Linked DNA regions of Homo sapiens: all the other regions are linked to region 1. Evidence: fine-mapped expression QTL. A gene starts in region 1. Each other region holds a variant in brackets. All regions are shown on one strand. Distances are between the middles of the regions. Region 1 holds the start of ZFP30 (ZFP30 zinc finger protein). Region 2 overlaps SIPA1L3 (signal induced proliferation associated 1 like 3). Region 3 overlaps ZNF573 (zinc finger protein 573).

Region 1 (8,183 bases):
GATTAAAATGATCTTGTTTTTTGTAAGTTTAGTTTTCTAAGAAATTATCATTAATTCATTTCCCCGAATCATGTAATTGAAGGATGAAGCTCCTGGTATAAAATAGCACAGCTGGCCGGGCACAGTGGCTCACACCTGTAATCCCAGCATTTTGGGAGGCCAAGGCGGGTAGATCACGAGGTCAGGAGATCAAGGCCATCCTGGCTAAAACGGTGAAACCCCATCTCTACTAAAAATACAAAAAATTACCTGAGCATGGTGGCATGTGCCTGTGGTCCCAGCTACTTGGGAGGCTGAGGCAGGAGAATTGCTTGAACCCGGGAGGCGGAGGTTGCAGTGAGCCGAGATCACGCCACTGCACTCTAGCCTGGGCGACAGAGCAAGACTCCATCTCAAAAAAAAAAAAAAAATAGCACAGCTGTCTATTTTATATTCTAAGAATGAAAAATCAATCCTTCAGAAATACAGTCAAATACTTCAAATACCTGTATCCCACCTGGCAAAAGTCAATTCCTAAATATGCCTAACTCTGAAATTCACATGACTCTGAGGTGAAAAGTTGATCAAGTCATAGGAGCCAGAAATCCTCCTGAAGGAATTGCTTGGGCAGTTTGGAATATTCCTGTCCAATAAGTCATTTCTTAAAAAATTTACAAAACATCCATAAAATGGAATACTAAGGTAATCACTAAATGCTAAATTTTAGAAAACAGTTAAGGAAAGGAAAATATTCAAGATACACTGAAAGAAAAAAAAAGTTTACAAAACAATATATGATTAGATTTTTTAGACCATTAAAGGGAAACAGACTTGAACAGATGAAAAAAACTCTTAAAATTTCAATTCTGAGATTTTAAAATTAATTTTAAAATCAGATTTAAATCTCAACTTAACTGAAATTTCCATAATTTGAAGAACTGTAAATATTTGGAAGGTCTGTCAAACCAGAAGTGGATCACTGGGATGTCACTTTTCTCCATACATCCATGGAGTCATATAATCCACAAGAGCACTGAATTCCTCTTTTAAACTAAGAACTAGAGGTCTTAGTTTCTTTTAAATTTGCAATTAGTATTAGCCTGTTCTTCAGAGAGAAAACCACCAGCCGGGTACGGTGGCTCACACCTGTAATCCCAGCACTTTGGGAGGCTGAGGCAGGTGGATTGTCTGAGGTCAGGAGTTCGAGACCAGCTTGGTCAACATAGTGAAACCCTGTCCCTACTAAAAATACAAAAAATTAGCTGGGCGTGATGGCAGGTGCCCGTAATCCCAGCTACTTGGGAGACTGAGGCAGGAGAATCACTTGAACCCGGGAGGCGGAGGTTGCAGTGGGCCAAGATCGCGCCACTGCACTCCAGCCTGGGAAACAAGAGCGAAACTCCACCTCAAAAAAATAAATAAATAAATAAAACCACACACAAAACCACACAGACTTGTAGAAATATTTTGGGAAAATATGCTCTAAAACATTAATAATTATTATTTCTGGACATTGGGACCATTGATCATTTTAATTTTCTTTATAGGTTCCGTAGTTACTAATATTTCACAAGCTTGTATTAATTCTGTCATCAGAAATATTTTAAAAAGCTATTCCAAAAAATTTTAAATGACTGGGAAGATAGGCTACCTTACAGTCATTAAGAAAATTGTGGGCCAGGTGCGGTGGCTCACGCCTGTAATCCCAACACTTTGGGAGGCCGAGGCAGGTGGATCACTTGAGGTTAGGAGTTCAAGACCAGCCTGACCAACATGGTGAAACCCCGTCTCTACTAAATACAAAAAATTAGCCTGGCATGGTGGCGGGCACCTGTAATCCCAGCTACTTGGGAGGCTGAGGCAGGAGAATCGCTTGAACCCGGGAGGCAGCGGTTGCAGTGAACTGAGATTTCGGCATTGCACTCCAACCCGGGCAACAAAATCGAAAACTCCGTCTCAAAAAAAAAAAAAAAAAGAAAGAAAAAAGAAAATTGTGATTAAACAGGCCCTGCATAAATGGTGACAACAGGGAAATCAGTGTGACTGAAAAAATAATTTCTACCAGTTCCTGAGTATTGTATCTCATCAAGACCCTGAAATAGTTCTGTGAAGGATTACAATCCTGGTTCATGTCATTTCCAAAGTGATTAAGAGCCAGTAAGAACTGCAGACAAAAACAAATGCTCATTTCACAGCAGCTACTTAATAACTTGCATTTACCCCTCCTCAGCTCCAATAAATAACTAATCATTAAATACCTAGCAATTTAATATTTAAATATTACATTGTTGCAAAATAACTTAAAAACCTTTATTGTAGTATACAAGATTCATATGTAACAATTTCTTGATGATTCTTATTTACAACAATACTTCTCAATATTACATTATACTTTTTTCTTATGACTAAATATAAACAAAATTCTTATTATTGCATAACATTCCATCACATGGAGTGTGATTTAACCATTTCCATACTGCTAGATATTAATTTTATAAAAGAACATCCCGAAAGTCATTACCAGTTATTTCATTTCTAGACAGTGAGAATCAATGTTGTTGGAGCTTATACAACTCTGATAATACCATGAAATGATAGACTTCCTCGCTCCACTGAAAAAATTAACCATTTACAAATACATACAACAATTCTGTATATAATCTTAAAATATCTTTGTTGCCCTGAAAGCTCATAAACAGAGTCCAAGGACTTATGTTACCAATCCCTGTTCTGGTCCACTGCAGGGTCTGGCTCATTTTCCTGCTTGCAAGCATCCATCATAATTACCTTCACATTTGCATTGGTCTTGGAAATACACAAAGCTGATAGGAAATGACTGAGCATCATCATTTTAATACCAGTAGCTAGTATGAATTAAGGACTCACTATGTGCCAGGCACTCTCCTAAGAGCTTCACAAATATTAATTCATGTAATCTTCAAAACAACACCGTAAAGTATACACTATTACAATTCTGAGGAAATTGAAGCACAGATTGCTTAAACTCGTTCAGATTTAAGTGGCAGTCAGGATTCAATTCCACTTAATCTAGGCTCGAAATTCTTAACCACTACACTACACCTCCCTCAGTCGATCCAAGATATACCCAAAATAAACTCATGCTGCCAGACCTCAAACCACATCTGGCTGGTACCAAAAACTTCCACTCATGAATTTCCTGGAAAAAAAGAAATCTCCACTCCTACCCCAGAACCATTAAACATATCTAAACCCTAAAAAACAAATAAAAACAAAGTATGAACATTAATCTCCAGCACGGGTATTTCCATATCATCAAGATCCTTAGAAAAACAGCGCTCACAGAGTAATTGAATTTGCAGCCTACAGTTAACTAACCATGTGTCTAACTATAGAACAGCATGAAGTGGGCACTAACAACGGGAAATCTATTAATTAGGTCCCCTGCCGTTAACTAGGTAGGGAAATCCTAAGGCCCAAATCAATGAATAAATAGATCATTCCTAAGCAGGATTTTAAACGGAAGGAACTCGAATGCATTTCACAGAAACAAAGCAGCAGCACGAACTCACAGGGAACCGGCTTTTAGAAGAGCAGCAGCGATTCGTTTCTCCTTCTCAAGCGCCTTCTCTGGAAACTGGCAGGGCTGGGGAAGCAGGCAGAGTTCAGGACACCCCAGGCTTTTCTTGACTCGATTGGAACCCACCCTCCACGCTTCCCTGGCCCCAACTAACCGCCACCTGCATGCACAAATGGAAACGACAGGGCAGAGGGTCAGCAGTCACCCGCGTCTGGGTTCGCAGCTCCGGGTACGCTGTAGTTCCGCACCCGGTTGCCCACGCCCGGGACCACCCACTGTGTCTTTTCGGAACTGTCCAGCGTGTCCTCCTAGACCCCAGACACCCACCCCAAATCTAGGTCCCAGCGTTTTGCAGGGGACCTTCATCCTGGGGCGTTCACCTCTGACTTCCCTCTTGGGCCTTTTCGCTACGGCCGAGCCTAAGTGGCTGAAGCGCGGACGAGGATGCGCGGGGCCTCGGTCTCCAACTGCACCACAGGCCGCACCCACGAACCTGGTCCGGCACAGTTACTACCGCCCGGGCCTCCAGGCCTCAGGGCTGCAGAAGCTCAGTCCCGGGAAAAAAAGCACACCGGCCTGAGGCTCCACAGGAACCTTTTCTCCACCTTGGCCCGGCCTGCAAAACCTGGCCCACTCCGCGCTCTTTTCCCTCAGAAAAGCAGCGGCCACAGTGGCGCCCGGCTCCCAGCCCCAGCCTCACCCGACTCAGAGGATAGCCCAGCCCTGGGAGTCAGCGGCGCCAGAATACGGGAGAGCGCCTGTCTCCGTCGCGAATGCGCTAGCGCGCGGGGGGGCGGAGGCAAGTCCCGCAGCTGCTCCGGGCCGGGAGGGGCGCGTGGGGCCGGGTCTCGGCGGGGATAGTCGGGCCGGGGAGACGGAGCCAGAGGGGCCGCAGTGTCCCTCGCCTCAGGCCTCTACCTGTAATGGCCGCCCCGTGACTGACCAGTGCCATTAAAGATAATCCAGGCCTGCTCCCCTGTGGACACTGCGGTCCAAAATTTAAAAAAACAATATTCCGCCTTTTTATTTTTCATTTGGTTCTCGGCTCGGAGACAGGCGGAGGCTGCGAGCCCCGCCCCGCCCCCAGCGACGCCTCACCGGAACCTTTGGAAATCGGCTTCTGCCTCGAGTGCGCAAGCGCGCGGGGGGCGAACGCTGGGGCCCTTCAGGGAGCAAGGGAGAAGTGTGGGGCCGCACCTGCCGAGGGGTCGGGAGGTTTGGAGGAGGGTGGAGGTTGGCTACAGGATCCCGATGGGGATGGAGTGTTCAAATCTAGGCCTGTAGCCGTGACCCTGGCGTGAGTTGGATGGAGGAAACCCCAGTATCGCGAGCCTGGACCAAGGCGCGGCGCGTGCTGCCTGTGGTGTTTGCTGAGTGACGGCCGCCGCGCCCCCGCGTACCTGGACCGAGTGCCTGGCCGCTGGCGGAGTAGTGTTTCCGTGCACGGGGCTGCTGCGTGCGCGTGTGCCGTTCTCTAGCGGGGGATTAGGATGGTGCCGCAGAGAAGGCTGCGCGGTGGTGCCTGACTCTGACGCTGGCTGTAGCGGGTCTCTGGGGTCTTTGCGGTTTGTGTCTGCGTTTGTGACGTACCTGACATCGGATCTGTGACTGTGGCTCTGCCTCATCCAGCGTTATTTCCAGAATCCTTCTGATAGGGCAGCGCTTCTGGTTCTGGTTTTCCATGGAGACGGTTTGTGGGTCCCTATGAAACTGAGTGTTGGGATTTTGATTATCTGCATCTGGCCCTTGTGTGCCCTCAGGACTGTGGTGTTAGGCAAGTAAAATAATTGCAGGAAAAAAAATTGGAAAGGAATAAGGTTGCTATTACTTCCAAATGATGGAATTGTAGGACTGTGTCAGAAAATTGAATAGGACACCATGAAACGGGAGGGAGAGGCATTTTATTTTCTTCCATACCTGGTCTTGGAATATTCTAACAAATGAGATTTGTTTTTTCCCCTTTGTTCCTGGATGAACTCTTGGATAAATTCAATGTCTCCAAGCATTCTTGGATAGTAAGTTTCTTTGATCTTTAGTTGAAAGATCAGCCTCATTTTCGTAGCTAAAAATACCTTTAGTAATAAAAATGTTCATTGTAATACTTCATTTAAAATATTTAAAACTTTCTTCTTTCTCCTTGATCTCTTCCAGATATCTCAAGTTTTGGTTAAGTGAATATGTGGAGTATATGTACTAATTACGTCAATTATTTTCTCTTTAAAACCAAGTACATTTCTTACATGAGTTTGTTTATCAAGGATTTATTGGTTTTCTTTGTACTTGTTGCTATTTTTTAGAAATGTTCCAACAGATATGTTAAATGTTCATCGATTATTTTTTCAGTGGTTCAAACATCGGAGTAGAATCTCTCTTCCATTCTGTGGCTGCAATTGGACTGTACAGTTGTCCTAAAATTTACCGTCATTGTTTTCCTAAGTTTGATTCTTGTTTCCTAGAATTCAGCTAATTTTTGCTAAAGTTCTTTTCCAATAAGTTCCTTAAGATGCATGTATTAAAGATGTTTTTTAGTTCTTTCATGTTTGAAATTTTTTTTTTTTTTGAGACGGAGTCTCACTCTGTTGTCCAGGCTGGAGTGCAGTGGTGCAATCTTAGCTCACTACAACCTCTGCCTCCCCAGTTCAAGCGATTCTTCTGCCTCAGCCTCCCGAGTAGCTGGGATTAAAGACGTGCACCACCACGCCTGGCCATTTTTTTTTTTTTTTTTTTTTTTTTATAGTTTAAGTAGAGATGGGGTTTCACCATGTTGGCCAGGCTGATTTCGAACTCCAGACCTCGGGTGATTCGCCCACTTAGGCCTCCCAAAGTGCTGGGATTACAGGCGTGAGCTACCGCGCTGGGCCTGAAAATGTCTTTATTCTGCCTTCACACTTTGCCTAGATTCAGAATTTGGAGGCGTCACTTCACAGTGTTCTAGTAGCTAATGTTGTCAAGTCTAATACCAATTGTTTTCTGTTCCTTTTTAATTTCATGTCCCACTCCCACCAACGCCCAGATACCTATTGCCACCTGTAATCCACAATGCACTTACATTTCATAATTTATGCACTTGGCATGTATGTTTAAACATTTTTTTCTGCTAGTTATAGGGCAGCACTTTATAGGTCTGAACATTTTTCTTCCTCTTTTTCTTTTTTGACAGTCCTCTATCCTTCTGAATTTTTGTTCTCTTGTCCTGGAATTTGTATTTCATGGAAGGACTTTTCATGAGCTGTATGTTTTGTCTCCTATTTTTTCTCTTTTTCTCTTACTTTGGGAAATTTTGTTGACTTTACAGTACAATTGTATTTATTTTTAATTTGATAATCATTTCTAATTTCCAAGAGCTCCTTTATATTCTGTAATTTTTATTTCTTCATAGCCTTTCGTTTTTATTATGGATGCAATAAAACCTCTAATCTCTCAGAGGGCAATTAGTTTAAAGTTTTCTGGTGCTTTTTTTTTTAATCTATTTTTGTCTTTTATATCCAAATCAAATTCCCCCTTTACAAAAAAGTTTGAATTGTTCTCTTTTTATACTGGATACTTCCCTGAAATGTGTGGTAATCCTTGCCTCTAGTCATGGAGTGAATCTTCTCAACCTGACTTCAGAGCCAGCCGTTTCATTGGGAGATGTGAGCTGTTCTTTAGTTCCTCCTTTGAGGACAGTGAGTTAGTGATGTCTGAGACCTCAAAGACCTCTCAGAGGCCCCCAGTTTTGAGTGTAGTTTTTCATTTAGTTTGCCTATGACTCAGTTCTGTCTTTCTTTATGCAGGTATACATCCTCTCTGGGTCATTTTATCCACAGATCACCCCCCTACCCCAATTTAGTGTATTTGATCACATAAGAGAGGAAAAGTAAAAAAGGTGAACAGCCAGTTTGTGTTCAAACTTTCAACCAATCTCCTGTTTCCAGATCCACATCTCTCCAGGGTCATGCTCTTTGGTGCCTGAGCTTCCAGGGGTTTATGCATTGAATTGCCTCATTAATAGAAATCTGACTCCTAAGCCCTTTCATACCAGAATTCTTGGACAGTTCTCCTGTTTTTGTGTGTGCGTTTTTTTTTGTTGTTGTTGTTGTTTTGTTTTTGCAGTCTCCCTCCTCATTTTCTTTGGTTCTTACATGTTAATACTTTTTATATTCCTTTACTTAATATATTCATTTTAATATTTTTTTTTTGCAGAGGAGAAATGGGAAATCAATGCATCTACTTACTCTGTTTATGGAGAAGCCTTTCATTACTCTTTTAAGTAAGATTTTGCTTGTACCGGACTTTTTTTTTTTACACCAGCTTATTTCTTTTAGTTACTGCTTTTGTTTTCTGTTTCATTAATTTCCACTTTTATCTTTATCAGTTTCTTCTGATGACTTCTCAGGGTGTATTTTCTACCTTTTTATTTACAGTTTTCTATTCCTTTCAAATTCATCAGGTTGTATTCTGAAAAAAACCCTTGGTCTTAACTTCCAACTTGCTGAGAGATGTTCTCTAGCTGTTTCAGTATTTTCACTCCTTTTTTAGCCCAATTATTATTTTTTAAAATTAATTCTGAAAAATTACAGATACACAAGAGAATGTATAAATGTGTTTACAGTTGAATGAATGAAAATAATGAAACTAATTCTTGTACCATAACTTCATAAAATAT
Region 2 (8,183 bases), 260 kb after region 1:
GGGCAACATGGCGAAACCCCATCTCTACAAAAAATTAGTCAGGTGTGGTGGCACACATCTCTAGTCCCAGCTACCCGGGATGTTGAGGCTGTAGTGAGCTGTGATTGCAGCATTGCACTCCAGCCTGTGTGACAGAGTGAGACCCTGTCTCAGAAAAAAAAAAAAAAAAAGAATGAGAGGCTGTTGTACCAGTTTGTGCATTTGTGTATTCTTCAAGACTGATATTGCTTCCTTTTTGTTGTTTTTAGACAGAGTCTTGCTCTGTGGCCCAGGCTGGAGTGCAGTGGCACGATCTCAGCTCACTGCAACTTCCACCTCCTAGGTTCAAGCGATTCTCCTGCCTCAGCCTCCTGAGTATCTGGGATTACAGGCATATGCCACCATGCCTGGCTAATTTTTGTATTTTTAGTAGAGATGGGGTTTCGCCATGTTGGCCTCGAACTCTTGACCTCAGGTGATCCACCCACCTTGGCCTCCCAAAGTGTTGAGATTACAGGCGTGAGCCACCGTGCCTGGCCTATTGCTTCCTTTTTTTAAGGACTATTTTGGTCATGACCTTTTGTGCGTGTGTGTATGTATGTGATTGGGTTGAATTTAGCTTAAAAAAAGTTATGCAAGAAATTCATGCTTGTTGTAACGTGTCAAACAATACAGAGGTGTAGGGAAAATACCTAGTGCCACCCTCCACTCCAAAACCCCATGTCGCCAGAGATAACCATTTATTCAGACAGTGAGTATCTATTAAGTATCTATTGCTAGGCTTTGGAGATAGCATAATGAACAAAATGGATGTGCTCTCTGCCCTTGTGATTTGGACAGATGCTTCAGTTATCTTTTTCTGTGTTTATATTGATTATGTTTGTATGTATGTGCGTGTGTGTGTGTGTGTGTGTATCGACTGTTTTCTTCCTCCTCCCATACCATTCCCCAAAAAAGGAGGGGGTAGGGATCAAGCTACACCTATTTGTAACCCAGTTTTTTCAATTAATGGCTGGGCATGTCCTTCCAAGTCATTACATATAGATCTGGCTTATCCTTTTCAACAGCTGTACCCACATTCTTCAGTGCAGAGAGACCACGCTTTATTCCAGCATTCCCCCACTGCTGGTCCTTTAGGTTGTTCCTCTGAGATGTCTTTTTTTTTTTTTTGAGACGGAGTCTTGCTCTATCGCCCAGGCTGGAGTGCAGTGGCGCAATCTCAGCTCACTGCAAGCTCCGCCTCCTGGGTTCACGCCGTTCTCCTCTGCCTCAGCCTCTCCGAGTAGCTGGGACTACAGGCGCCCGCCACCACGCCCGGCTAATTTTTTGTATTTTTAGTAGAGATGGGGTTTCACCGTGGTCTCGATCTCCTGACCTCGTGATCCGCCCACCTCAGCCTCCCAAAGTGCTGGGATTACAAGCGTGAGCCACCGCGCCTGGCCCCTCTGAGATTTCTTTACCTCAGCAAACACACATCTAATAAGTATCCTTGGTGGTGGCTCAGGAGATCGAGACCATCCTGGCTAACACAGTGAAACCCCGTCTCTACTAAAAAATACAAAAAAATTAGCCAGGCGTGGTGGCCGGTGCCTGTAGTCCCAGCTGCTCAGGAGGCTGAGGCAGGAGAATGGCGTGAACCTGGGAGGCAGAGCTTGCAGTGAGCCAAGATTGTGCCACTGCACTCCAGCCTGGGCGACAGAGCGAGACTCCATCTATAAAAAAAAGAAAAAATTAGCAGGGTGTGATGATGAGAGCCTGTAATCCCAGCTACTTGGGAGGCTGAGGCAGGAGAATTGCTTGAACCAGGGAGGTGGAGGGTGCAGTGAGCCGAGATTGTACCACTGCACTCTAGCCTGAGTGACAAGAGTGACACTCTGTCTCAAAAAAAAAAAAGTATAAAAAGTATCCTTTCACATAGGCAGCATGGCCCAGTGGCTGAAGCACAAACTCTGGGGCCACATGGTCTGGGTTCACACTGTGACTCTATCCTATATTAGTTGTGATACCTTGGGCAAATCATGTGTCCTTCTGAGCCTTAGTGTCCTGATCTGAAAATGGGGATGATACCAGTGTCTTCCTTATAGGGTGGTTGTTGAGAGGTTTCATAAGATTATCTATGTCAAGCCTTCAGGGCAGGGCCAGCTGTGATCTTTTTTTTAGAGACAGGGTCACTCTGTTGCCCACGCTGGAGTGCAGTGGCGTCATCATAGCTCACTGTAACCTTGAACTCCTGGGCTCAAGTGATCCTCCCACCTCAGACTCCCTAGTAGCTGGGGCTACAGGTGTGCACCACCACACCCAGCTAATTTTTAAATTTTTGTAGAGATAGGGTCTCACACTATGTTGCCTAGACTGGTCTCGAAGTCCTGGCCTCAAATGATCCTCCCGCCTCAGCCTACATGTGTTCTTTCAAACCCAGAGAAATTCACAGGAAGAGCCAACTCAATCACTTGAAACACCAGGTAGAAATAAGAAAAAGTTATATTGCAGGGATCCCGCTTGGAGATGTTGGGGGCCTAAGGTGAGGGATCCAGCTGCCGCTGAAAGAAGGGAGGAGATTTGCCCAGGAAGACAGGAGCCAGTAAAGTGCCCTGACCACAGTGGGTGGTGGGGGTGAGGGGCTGGTGGTGGAGCATCAGTGGGAAATATCACTCCTCATATTTGCGAGAAGTGTGCCATGGTTGGAAGGTGGCTTAGGTGGCGGGCAGACCAAGTTCAAATCACAGTATAGCCACTAACTTGTAAGATGTGCACTGAGCTTTTTTCTTCATTGGCAAAATGGGTATGATAGTAGTCTTTACCTCGGGGGTCGCTGGAGACTGAATGAAATGTCTGCAAGACTTTCAGCACATTAGGCTGTCATTAGCCCTGTGCAGTTAGCTACTATTCTTATTTTATTGAGTTGACAGATGTGTTGAGACCCTGCTGTGAGCCAGGGTCCTATCCTAGGCACTGAGGATTCAGCAGTCAACAAGACAGACAAGATCCTTGCTGTCCTAGGGTTTACATTCTAGCCATTCTAGCCCGGGAAGACACACAATAAACAGGATCATTTCACTTTGTGTTTTTGAGATGGAGTCTCGCTGTCACCCAGGCTGGCACAATCTCAGCTCACTGCAACCACTGCCTCCCAAGTTCAAGCCCATCTCCTGCCTCAGGCTCCTGAGTAACTGGGATTACAGGCATGCGCCACTATGCCCTGCTGATTTTTGTATTTTTAGTAGAGGAGGGGTTTTGCCATGTTAGCCAGGCTGGTCTTGAACTCCTGACCTCAGGTGATCTGCCTACCTTGGCCTTGTACAGTGCTGGGATTACAGGCGTGAGCCACTGTGCCCAGCCTTTTCTTTCTTTTTTTTTTTTTTAATTAAAAAAAATCCTGGCTGGGCACAGCGGCTCACGCCTGTGATCACAGCACTTTGGGAGGCTGAGGCGGGCAGATCACGAGGTCAGGAGATCGAGACCATCCTGGCTAACAAGGTGAAACCCCGTCTCTACTAAAAATACAAAAATTAGCCAGGTGTGGTGACAGGCGCCTGTAGTCCCAGTTACTCGGGAGGCTGAGGCAGGAGAATCACGTGAACCTAGGAGGCAGGAGGAGGCGGAGTTTACAGTGAGCCTAGATTGCACCACTGCACTCCAGCCTGGGCGGCAGAGTGAGAGGCCGTCT[CAA/C]AAAAAAAAAAAAAAAAAAAATCCTGATCCTGCCTCTTCAGATAGTTTTAACTGTGATGGAGAAAATTTAACAGGGTAAGTGGAGAGCAAATGGCTGATGGGGCAAGATGGCGGTGGTTACCTTAGCTTTGATGGTCAGGGAAGGCCTCCCAGGCCTCTTTGAGGAGTCATGTGAACTGATACCTTAATGAGCAGTGGCACTGGCTATGCCGAAAGTTGAAGAAAGAACATTCCAGGTAGAGGGAACAGCAAGTGTTAAGGCCCGGAGGTGGGAGTGAGTTTGCTACAAAGAGTATCAGTTTGACTGGAGAAGAGTTAATTCCTAGTTTTCAAGTTGATACTACTTTAATTTTTTTTTTTTTTGTGGCAGGGTCTGCTCTGTCGCCCAGGCTGGAGTGCAGTGGCATGATCTCAGCTCATTGCAACCTCTGCTTCCTGGGCTCAAGTGATCCTCCTGCCTCAGCCTCCCAAGGAGCTGGGATTACAGGAATGTGCCACCACACCTGGCTAATTTTTTTTTGGTACTTTTAATAGAGGAGACAGGTTACACCATGTTGGCCAGGGTGGTCTCAAACGCCTGACCTCAGGTGATCTGCCTGCTTCAGCCTCCCAAAGTGCTGGGATTACAGGTGTGAGCCACTGCAGCCGGCCACATTTTTTCTATTTTTTGTAGAGACCTGTTTTGCCCAGGCTGATCTTGAACTTCTGGGCTCAGGTGATCCTCCACCCTCAGTCTTCCAAAGTGCTAAGATTACAGGCACGAGCCACCATACCTGGCCTACTTTTTTATAAAATAATAATAATGATAGCAGCTTACCTGGTGCTTACTCTGTGCTAGATGCTTTTCTAAGCATTTCACACATTCCTCAGTTAATCCTGACAGTAGTCCAGTGAAGTAATTAACTTGATCAAACTCATTTTACAGATGAGGAAACTGATTCCACCCTCCATGCTCTTCACCTGCATTCTAAACTCTTCCAGGGCCCTCCTTACCAGGCAGAGGCAAATTGAGGAAGTGGACACAGCATTTCCTTTCCTTGTTGTTTGACATGCAAAGCACTTTAGACTATATTTAGTACCTAATTGATGTGGCAGCAGGGGCCGCCTGGGATGTTGTGGCATCATTTTTGCTCTCAATGAGACACGATAGGGATGGTTTGGTGGTGGTTTCAAAACTAAAGACCCTCCAGCAGAGCCTGTCAAGTAAAACAAGGTTGACTGCTTGGTTGCCATACCAGGCACAGGTTAGCATGAAACAAAGTGTAGTGTCCAAGGAGAGGGAGCAGGGTGTCTCCTTTGGGTGAGCTTTGCAAGGGGACTTGGGACTTGGCTGGAAAAGGTGTTTTTTTTTGTTTGTTTGTTTTTGTTTTTTTTGAGTCAGAGGCTCGCTCTGTTGCCCACGCTGGAGTGCAGTGGTGTGATCTGGGCTCACTGCAACCTCCGCTTCCTGGGTTCAAGCGATTCTCCTGCCTCAGCCTCCTGAGTACCTGGAGTTACAGGCGCCCACCGCCACTCCCAGCTAATTTTTGTATTTTTAGTAGAGATGGGGTTTCACCATCTTGGCCAGGCTGGTCTCCAACTCCTCACCTCAAGTGATCCGACGGCCTCAGCCTCCCAAAGTGTTGAGATTACAGATGTGAGCCATGCACCCAGCTGGAAATGGTGTTTTAAGCACACTAGCCATGTGGGCTGTTAAAGTATCATACTATAGCCCATCAACTAAGACAATGATTCTTGGACCTGTAAGGGCCCCAGGTCCCTGCTCCGGCATCATGACCTGTGTGCACTTTGATTTGCTGTAGCGTGGGCGTATTTTGAATGAAGGGTAGCCCTGGTTAGATGTGAGGACAGTAGTGGGTGCTTTTAAGACTAAAAATATTGGGTGGGCATGGTGGCTCAGGCTTGTAATCCCAGCACTTTGGGAGGCCGAGGTGGGAGGATTACTTCAGACCAGAAGTTCAAGACCAGTCTGGGCAACATAGACCCCAACTCTGCAAAAAAAAAAAAAGTTTTTGTTTTTGAGACAGTTCTCACTCTGTTGCCCAGGCTGGAGTATAGTGGTATGATCACAGCTCACTGCAACCTCTGCCTCCTGGGTTCAAATGACTGTCCTGCCTTAGCCTCCACAGTAGCTGGGATTACAGGCGCCCACCACCACACCCGGCTAATTTTTATATTTTTAGTAGAGATGGGGTTTTACCATGTTGGCCAGGCTGGTCTCAAACTCCTGACCTCAGGTGGTCTTCCCGCCTCAGCCTCCCAAAGTGCTGGGATTACAGACGTGAGCCACCGCATCTGACCTCATCTCTGCAAAAAATTTTTAAATTAGCCAGGCTTGGTGATGTGCACCTATAATCCCAGCTACTCAGGAGGCTGAGGTGAGAGGATCACTTGAGCCCAGGCACTACCACACCTTGAGCCCAGGAGATCAAGGATACAGTGAGCTATGATCACACCACTCTGTGTCTAAAAAAAAAAAAAAAAAAAAAAGACTGAAAGTATGGAGAGCATCTTTCATCTGTCCATCTGTGAAACATTTCTTCACCTACCCTGTGTGTCAGGGTCCATGCTTGACACTGACAGTATAAAGTTGAATAAGACACTGGTTCTCAAAAGCCCACAACAGTGCTGTCTGTTAGAAATATAACGTGGGGCCGAGCGCGGTGACTCATGCCTGTAATCCCAGCACTTTGGGAGGCTGACGCGGGTGGATCACTTGAGTTCAGGAGTTCGAGACCAGCCTAGCCAACATGGTGAAATCCCATCTCTACTTAAAATACAAAAATTAGCTGAGTCTGGTGGCATGTGCCTGTAATCCCAACTACTCGGGAGACGGAGGCAGAGAATCACTTGAACCCTGGAGGTGACAGTTGCAGTGAGCCAAGATTGCACCACTGCACTCCAGCCTGGGCAACAGAGTGAGACTCCTTCTCAAAAAAAAAAAAATGTGGGTCACTGATGAGGCTCATATAGGTAATTAAAAATTTTCTAGTAGCCATATTTTGAAAAGTAAAAGGAAGCAGGAAAGTAATTTTAATGATATATTTTATTTCATCTAAAACATCATTTCAACATGTAATCAATATAGAAATTATTAGTGAGCTATTTTACTTCCTTTTTTCCACATTAAGCGTTTGACATACAATATGTATTTTACACTTTCAGCGTATCTCAGTTGGTACCAGCCATGTTTCAAGTGCTCGGTGGCTACATGTGGCTAATGGCTACCACATCGGACAGCACTGGCCGAGGGTATGAGATTCACGTGTAAATCAAAGGTGGTAGTTCAGTGATAGATCTGACATGCCACTCCTGTTTTATCTTGGCGGAGAAGGGCAGATGTATGATGAAAAGCAGGTTTATCACAAGCAGTTATAGCTAACCAAAGAGCTACTGTCCATCAAACTTGCTGTATGTGCCTGGCACTGTGCTTAGTGTTGGTGGGTGTTGCCTGTGTTCGGAGGTGCCAGGGACTACAGTTATTCCCATTTCACAGATGAGGAAGCTGAGATAAGGCAATGAGAGGTCACTTGCTCAAAGTTGGGAAGTGGCAGAGGCAGCATTTGAGCTCAGGTGCAGAGTGTATACTTTTAAACCTGTTTTATATGCTGTATTGGAGGGTGTTTAAGGGGGATAGGGTCTGAGTTTTGAGCAATGAAAACCATAGGAGGGACTTGTTGCACAAAATCGATTCTGAGGCCGGTCGTAGAAGATCATACCTGTAATCCTAACATTTTGGGAGGCCCAGGCAGGAGGATTGCTTAAGCCCAGGAGTTTGAGACCAGCCTGGACAACAAAGCAAGACTCCACCTCTACAAAAATTTAAAAAATTAGCTGGGTATGGTGGCTTGTGCCTGTGGTCCCAGCTACATGGGTGGCTGAGGTGGGAGGATTGCTTTAGGCCAGGAGGTCAAGGCTGCAGTGAGCCGTGATTGTGCCACTGCACTCCAGCCTGGGTGACGGAGAAAGACCCTGTCTCAAAAAAAAAAGAAGTCCCAGTTTGTCAGCATTAATCTCTGGGTTTACATTGGTGTCGGTGTGCTGGTTTGAGACCTGAATGATTGAGAGGTCCACTCCTTAAATTGACCTCTAGGTTTGCTGGAACCTGGAACCTTACCTCCCAGGAAAGAGAGGGGTCTTTGGGGAGTTGGGAGGAGGGTGAGCAGGGGGACTAAGGAAGGCAAGGAAAGGTCTTGGCGTGTTTGAAAGCTCATTTCTTTGTTTTTTGTTTGTTTGATTGTTTGTTTGTTTTTGAGACAGGGTCTTGCTCTGTCACCAGGCTGGAGTGCAGTGGCGCGATCTTGGCTCACTACAACCTCCACCTCCTGTGTTCAAGTGACTCTCCTGCCTCAGCCTCCCGATTAGCTGGGACTACAGGTGCGCGCCACCACACCTAGCTAATTTTTGTATTTTTAGTAGAGATGGGGTTTCACCATGTTGGCCAGGATGGTCTCAATCTCTTGACCTTGTGATCCGCCTGCCTCGGCCTCCCAAAGTGCTGGGATTATAGGCATGAGCCAGCATGCCCAGCCTGA
Region 3 (8,183 bases), 110 kb after region 1:
TCAGTCCCATTCTCCCCCTAGGCTAACCATAAAGACTAGAAGCCCTCTTCCCCAAGGCAAGTCATGGAAACCAGAACCCCTTGTCCCCAGAGCTACTCATAAAACCTAAAAATATTACTCTAACTTTCCCCTGCCTTTTTGGGTAAAAACTGGCCATAAAAAATTCCCTGGCCTACTTTGTTTGACTGTTGGTCATAAGACCCCCATTCCAGAGAGTGTCCCCCATTCCGGAAGGAAGGAATACGTGTTCTGAGAGGCCAAGAAGAACCTAGACAGACAGGCCTTGCTGGGTTTCCCTACTCAGGCTATTAGCATTAGATCACACCCTTTTTGCCCAATCCTGTTTCTACATAGCTGTCCATACTTTGTTAAACCTAAGCATAAAAATAGGTAATTTCCCCTGTACCTTTGGATCTTCTTTCTAAAGGCTCCTGTGTCATGAAAAAGTATGATTAGATCAATTTGTATGCCTTTTCTTCTCAATCTGCCTTTTGTCAGTGATTTTCAGTGAAACTTCAGAGGGTGAAAAAGAAGTTTTTCCTTGGCCCGGACAGATACAATTATGAAAAGCATCTCAAACAAGTTATATCATATTAGCATTGCCTAAGGCACAAATTCTTATTTCACCAAATTATAATATTAGCATTGCCAGTGGAACAAACTATTATTGTCTCCTCATGTGATACAATGGGAAGAATAGAACATCACCTGGGGGCAATTTTTCAAAATATGTTGGGCTTGAATTTAATCATAAGGAAGTGATAATACATTGCAGATTGTAGACATTCTAAAAAGAAATCAAGTGGACTGGACTTTGCAAAGATGTCAATTTCATGAAGGAAGATGCTCTGAATTAAAGGATATTAAATAGATTTGGTGAGTAAGTATGACAGATGTTCCTTCAGTTGATCCTAGATTTTAAAATTTATAAAAGGACATTACTGGGATAATTGGGAGAAATTTGGATGTGGACTGTATATTTGATAATATTCTTAGAGAATTGTGAAATCACTTGGGTAATGTGGGCAAAGGGTTAACAAAACATTTTCTAATGTTCTGTAATTAAACATTAAACAGAATGGGAATCCCATTCTGCATGAGGATGTACTCTTAGGCTAACTCTCCAATGCTGCTTCCCTAAAAACAGAATGTGTCAACTATGTTAATAAGTTTCATTATTTATGGTAACAATGACCCTGATTGGCAAGTTGCACCTCGGACTGTGGACTAGGGGCTAGATGAAGAGAACACCATATTTAGGGTTTCTTTGACTACATTTCTTTTTAAAAGAGCATATCCTTGAAAGACCCTGGAAACGATGACTAAAGAATCCTCACACCAGATATTGTACCAACCTTTGGAGCCAGTCTTTTTTTTTTTTTTTGAGAAGGAGTCTCATTCTGTCACCAAGGCTGGAGTGCAGTGGTGCGATCTCGGCTCACTGCAACCTCCGACTCCCTGGTTCAAGTGATTCTCCTGCCTCAGCCTCCTGAGTAGCTGGGATTACAGGCATGCACCACCACACCCGGCTAATTTTTTATGTTTTTGGTAGAGACAGGGTTTCACCATGTTGAACAGGCTGGTCTCGAACTCCTGACCTCAAGCGATCCACCTGCCTTGGCCTCCCAAAGTGCTGGGATTACAGGCATGAGCCACCGCGCCCAGCCAAACCAGTCTTCTTAAGTCAGGGGAGGCCCACACTCCTGCCGTGTGGATCTCATTTCCTAGCACTTGAGCTCTAGCACCTGTGGAAAAGAGAGCTCCTGGAAGGCTGTCTCATATGCATGAATCACTGCAGCCATGCCACAGGGTGCTGAGCACCAAATACCCAAGAACAACTATAGTTATATATATATATATTATAAATATATACTTAGGTTAAGAGTAAATATCAGGGCCAGTTACCGGGGCTCAAGAGTGTAATCCCAGCACTTTGGGAGGCCGTGGTGGGCAGATCACTTGAGGTCAGGAGTTCGAGACCACCCTTTGTATTTTGTAAAAATACAAAAATTAGCCAGGCATGGTGGCACACACTTGTAATCCCAGCTACTTGGGAGGCTGAGGCAGGAAGATCGCTTGAAACCAGAAGGCAGAGGTTGCAGTGAGCCAAGATCCATCACTGTACTCCAGCCTGGGCGACAGAGTGAGACTGTCTCAAAAAAAACAAAACAAAACAAAAAAAACAGAGTAAATATCAGTCATAAGGGAGAAAGCATATGATGCAATGACTATATATTTCATAATATGATTACAGTGAAACTAAAAATTGGGAGGAGACTGGGCATACTAAAAAACTGTTTTCAGTAATCATTTAGGTAGTAAAGCTGTTACTAATGTTCTAAGAATGTTTTATGTGTCATAAAGAATAAAGGAAATGACTGGGCATGGTGGCTCATGCCTGTAATCCCAACACTTTGGGAGGCCAAGGTGGGCAGGTCACCTGAGTTTGGGAGTTCAAGACAAGCCTGACCAACATGGAGAAACCCCATCTCTACTAAAAATACAAAATTAGCCGGGCATGGTACCGCATGCCTGTAATCTCAGATACTCTGGAGGCTGAGGCAGGAGACTCGCTTGAACCCAGGAGGCAGAGGTTGCGATGAGCCAAGATCGCACCTTTTCACTCCAGCCAGGGCGACAAGAGCGAAACTCTGCCTCAAAAAAAAAAAAAAAAAAATAGAATAAAGGAAATGAATACTTGCATGGTATTTTAATTTTATCATCACTGGAGTATTGGAGAATTGGTACTAAGGAATAAGAGATACAGATCAAAGACAGAAAATTTCAATTAAACACCATTTAGTTCTAAGTTTGGCCAGGAAGTTGCCATATAAACTCATTAGGTAATTTATTTTTATGTAAATATGTAAACACATACATATATGTATACTTAGAGTTTTTTTTTGTTTTTTTTTTTTGTTGTTTTTTTTTCTTAAGACGGAGTGTCGCTCTGTCACCAGGCTGGAGTGCAGTGGCCCGATCTCGGCTCACTGCAACCTCCATCTCCCGGATTCAAGCAATTCTCCTGTCTCAGCCTCCCTAGTAGCTGGGACTACAGACCAGTGCCACCACGCCCAGCTAATTTTTGTACTTTTAATAGAGACGGGGTTTCACCATGTTGGCCAGAATGGTCTCGATCTCTTGACCTCGTGATCTGCCCGCCTTGGCCTCCCAAAGTGCTGGCATTACAGGCATGAGTCACTTTTTTTTTTTTTTGAGACGGTGTCTCGCTCTTTCACCCAGGCTGGACTGCAGTGGTGCTATCTTGGCTCACTGCAAGCTCCACCTCCCGGGTTCACACCATTCTCCTGCCTCAGCCTCCCGAGTAGCTGGGACTACAGGTGCCCGCCACCACGCCCGACAAACTTTTTGTATTTTTTGTAGAGACGGGGTTTCACTGTGTTAGCCAGGATGGTCTCGATCTCCTGACCTCGTGATCCGTCTGCCTTGGCCTCCGAAAGTGCTCAGATTACAGGCATGAGCCACTGTGCCCGGCCTTTTTTTTTTTTTTTTTTTTGAGACGGAGTTTCACTCTTGTCGCCTAGGCTGGAGTGCAGTGGCATGATCTCTGTTCACTGCAACCTCTGCCTCCTGGATTCAAGTGATTCTCCTGCATCAGCCTCCCCAGTAGCTGGAATTACAGGTAGCCGCCACAATGCCTGGCTAATTTTTGTATTTTTAGTAGAGATGGCGTTTCACCATGTTGGCCAGGCTGGTCTTGAACTCCTGACCTCAGGCTGGCCTCCCAAAGTGCTGGGATTACAGGCGTGAGCCACCACACCCAGTCACTTACAGATTTTTCTATCTTTAACTGGTAAAAAGCCTATAACAATCTTCAACCAAGAAAAATGGGCACTTCTAGAGGCTAGACTGTGGCCTTAAAATACCATTTCCCACTAAAAGAACCCAATAGTTCACAAACTTATGGCTGACTAAAGGCTTGGTACAGGAAACGTACAAGATAAGCCTGCAACACTTTGTCATATCAGATGGGAGAAGGCTGGCAATAAAATAACCGTCTAAATCTGGGAGTGGTGGCTCATGACTGTAATCCCAGCACTTTGGGAGGCCGAGGCAGGCGGATCACGGGAGGTCGGGAGTTCGAGACCAGCCTGACCAACATGGAGAAACCCCATCTCTACTAAAAGCACAAAATTAGCTGGGTGTGGTGGCACGTGCCTGTAATCCCAGCTACTCGGGAGGCTGAAGCAGGAGAATCGCTTGAACCTGGGAGACGGAGGTTGCAGTGAGCTGAGATTGTGCCATTGCACTCCAGCCTGGGCAACAAGAGCAAAACTCCGTCTCAAAAACAAAAACAAAAACTGTCTAGTTACCTATGAAGGATCCTAGGGGCCAGGCACGGTGGCTCATGTCTGTAATCCTAACATTTTGGGAAGCCGAGTCCGGTAGATCATCTGAGGTCAGGAGTTTGAGACCAGCCTGGCCGACATGGCAAAACCCTCCTCTCTACTAAAAATATAAAAATTAGCCGAGCATGGTGGTGCATGCCTGTAATCCCAGCTACTTGGGAGGCTGAGGCAGGAGAATGGCTTGAACCTGGGAGGTGGAGGTTGCAATGAGCCAAGATCACACCATTGCATTTCAGCCTGGGCGACAAGAGCAAAACTCCATCTCAAAAAAAAAAGAAAA[G/T]AGAAAAGACCAAATATTGATCAGCCTTTATTTTCCAAATGGTATCAGTAGTTACCAAATAGTAGGTGATGTAAAAAATTGTTTATATTTGTACATAATAAATGAAAAATAAATGTTAGAATTAGAATATGACCATTTTGGAATGTCTGATGAATTAATACATCCAGGCATTGAGCATAAATGACTGCTAAAAATCACAGAGAGACAACCAGAAGGTTTATGCTGAGAACCTAAACCATTCACTCCCACACTCAGCCTTGAAACAGAGAAGTGGACCTACCAATCCCCCTACAGGTAGCTTACTCTCTCCATAAACACATCCCACTGTTTTCCTCAGCACAATTTTACTGTTCTGGAAGTTTCTTGCAAAGGCAAATGGCTTCATTGTTCATTACTGGAAGTTCCTGAAAGATCCATCAACTCTTAAATGGCAAACATCAACAGTTTGTACTCTAGAAAATTTTCAATTCCTAACCTCAAAATTCTAACCTAGCTGTTTCCACTAATTCTCCACTGTGGTGTCTTCATCTTTACCTAATCCTAATCAAGTCCCCGCATGAAGACCAGCCTTAAACCAAACTTTTAATTCTCAGTAAAAGCCATCCTTGCCCTTCTGCCTCTGAGATACTATATAAAGCTCTTCAGAGGTGGTGTTTTCCTTTAACACAGTAAACCATAAGCCCAGCTCTGTCTGGTATGAGGGGAGCAGGAAAAGTGCCAACATATGATGCATACAATACTGCCCAGGAAGTTGTCTTGCAATAAAATAAATAAAATAAACTGAATCAAAATCGATTAAGTGTAACAGTGAAATAAATCTAGCATAGCTGACTCCATCTTACTTCTAACCTCACAAGCTAATGGCGTTTGCTCATAACTGCACGCTGGCCAAGTTAACTATGGGAGTATTTAATTTATACTATAACTTTAAAGCAAGGATAATAATCCCTTTCCAAAACTATTAATAATTCTCAAGGAGATAGGGAGGGTGTACATACAAGTAACAACGTTATGTTAAAGATTTATAGGAGCATTGTGACCTGACCGAGGACAACGTTGTGCAACCTTCTCGGACCCCTGCTGACACCCAGATATCTGTAGTCGCCAGTCACCTCCTGACCTCAACCTCCTCCTAGTTCCCCCTTCGCCAACATAAAAAACGGCATGAGATTCATTCCTTTTTTTTTTTTTGAGACGGAGTCTCGCTCTGTCACCCAGGCTGGAGTGCAGTGGCGCGATCTCGGCAAACTGCAAGCTCCGCCTCTCGGGTTCACGCTCTTCTCCTGCCTCAGCCTCCTGAGTAGCTGGGACTACAGGCGCCCGCCACCACGCCCACCTAATTTTTTGTATTTTTTTTTTAGTAGAGACGGGGTTTCGCCGTTTTAGCCAGGATGGTCTCGATCTGCTGACTTTGTGATCTGCCCGCCTCGGCCTCCCAAAGTGCTGGGATTACAGGCGTGAGCCACCATGCCCGGCAGAGATTCATGCCTTTTAAGATGGTTCTTTAGGACATTAGCCTGCCATCTTCTCGCTTTGCTGGCTCTCTGAAATAAAGTTCCTTGCCCTAACACCTTACCTCTTGACTTACTGGCTGTTGTGCAGTGAGCAGTATAAGCTCTGGACTCAGATACATAAGCCTCTTGACCCCTCTACTTATTTAGAGGATATAGAGGGGTCAGAGAACATATTTAAGCAAATCTCAGGGATGGCATCAGCAAAAAATAGAATGGAAGATGTTTCTTCAGCAAATAAGGGGTTAAGAACACAAAGAAAGATGAAGACAAAACTTAGAGACTTGCGAAAACTTAAAAAGACTTGAAATTGGAGAAAAAATAAAAGGAAGGAACTTATTACCATTAAAATCAGAATAGTGGTTACACTTAGCAGGAGGAAGGAGATTGTGACTGGTTGCAGACATGTGGAGGACTTCAGAATCAACTAGAAACTCTCTCCTTGTTTAGAAATACTGCTTGGAGGGTATAAAATAATCTTGTATGTCATTATTATAACCTTTCTGTAACTCTAAAATTATATTAAAATAAAAAAAAATTTTTAAGTTTTAACTCCTGACACGGCTGTGGTGACATGATTGTTTAACTTGTAAGACTCAGTAAGCTACTCATGTGTTATATGTTGTTCTCTGAATCTGTCTAATGTTTTTAAAAATGCCTTGAAAACAATTACATCATTGGTTCTAATCCTTCTTATTCCCAAAAATTCAAATTCAACAATACCTCATGTGATCTGACTACGCCTAACAATGTGACCTCATTTCTCGTCACTCTCCTCTTAGGATCTCTATTCTGGTCTACTTTGGTGCTCCTCAAACTCACATAGCTCTCTCTATTACCCTCCCTTGACTATCCATACTCCTTCCCTCCAATGCTTCAGCCATCTCCTTAGCCTTCTAAGCTCTTTATTCAGCTTGGAATATTCTTCCCCAGATAAACACATGGCTTGTGACCTTATACCATGTCTCTTTCCAAATACTACTGCCCCAAAGAAGCTGTCCCCAGCCATCTCATCCAAAATGGCCTAACCTCTGCTTACTTTCTACCATTGCTTATTCCACTGCCTAATAGTAGTTGTTTGCCTGCTTATTTTATTTTATTTATTTATTTATTTTTTGAGATGGAGTCTCTCTCAGTCGCCCAGGCTGGAGTGCAGTGGCGCAATCTCAGCTCACGGCAAGCTCCGCCTCCCGGGTTCATGCCATTCTCCTGCCTCAGCCTCCTGAGTAGCTGGGACTACAGGCGCCCGCCACTATGCCCTGTTAATTTTTTTGTATTTTTAGTAGAGACGGGGTTTCACCGTGTTAGCCAGGATGGTCTCGATCTCCTGACCTCGTGATCCACCCATCTCGGCCTCCCAAAGTGCTGGGATTACAGGCGTGAGCCGCTGCGCCCGGCCTATTTTATTTTATTTTTGAGACAGAGTCTTACTCTGTCGCTCAGGCTGGAGTGCAATGGCGTGATCTCGGCTCACTGCAACCTCTGCCACCTGGGTTCAAGCGATTCTCCTGCCTCAGCCTCCCAAATAGCTGGGATTACAGGCACCTGCCACCATGCCTGGCTAATTTTTGTATTTTAAGTAGAGACGGGGTTTCACCATTCAAGACCGGCCAGGCTGGTCTTGAACTCCTGACCTCCTGAGCCACCCACCTTGGCCTCTCAAAGTGTTGGGATTACAGGCATGAGCCACTGCGCCCAGCCTACCTGTTTATTTTTATGTGTTCTTTAGTACAATGTAAATTTCCATGAGGATAAGGACCTTACATGTCTTCCTCATGATCACTACATTGATATGTGTGTTGTGTGTGTGTGCAAAAGGGGAGCTGGAAAAACAGTTGAGTCCAAAATACAGGTAAAATATTGCACTAAAGAAAAACGAGGCTGGGTGTAGTGGCTCACAACTGTAATCCCAGCATTTTGGGAGGCTGAGGCAGGCAGATCACGAGGTCAGGAGTTCAAGACCAGCCTGGCCAACATGGTGAAACCGTGTCTCTACTAAAAATACAAAAATTAGCTGGGCAC

Evidence for each region. PIP is the estimated chance that this variant, and not a neighbour inherited with it, causes the effect. A credible set is the group of variants that fine-mapping cannot tell apart.
Region 2: its variant is the best candidate, but not a certain one, in a credible set for the expression of ZFP30 in non-classical monocytes (Schmiedel 2018, PIP 0.54).
Region 3: its variant is the best candidate, but not a certain one, in a credible set for the expression of ZFP30 in whole blood (INTERVAL, PIP 0.77).

What each region holds. Positions count from the first base shown.
Region 1 is chr19:37,651,182-37,659,364 of GRCh38, forward strand. It overlaps ZFP30 (ZFP30 zinc finger protein), which reads right to left and starts at 4,284. Exons shown (of 6, transcript NM_001320669.3): 1 at 4,239-4,284; 2 at 3,531-3,698. RefSeq lists a silencer at 4,240-4,429 and enhancers at 4,453-5,440, 4,840-4,889.
Region 2 is chr19:37,910,378-37,918,560 of GRCh38, forward strand. The region is part of intron 1 of SIPA1L3 (signal induced proliferation associated 1 like 3); the gene reads left to right. Among named protein-coding and RNA genes, the nearest start is that of SIPA1L3, 7.3 kb to the left of the region's middle. RefSeq lists enhancers at 394-463, 594-643, 4,512-5,377, 5,378-6,243. The variant CAA/C (reference allele first, on the strand shown) is at 3,647.
Region 3 is chr19:37,761,406-37,769,588 of GRCh38, forward strand. The region is part of intron 4 of ZNF573 (zinc finger protein 573); the gene reads right to left. Among named protein-coding and RNA genes, the nearest start is that of ZNF573, 14 kb to the right of the region's middle. The variant G/T (reference allele first, on the strand shown) is at 4,651.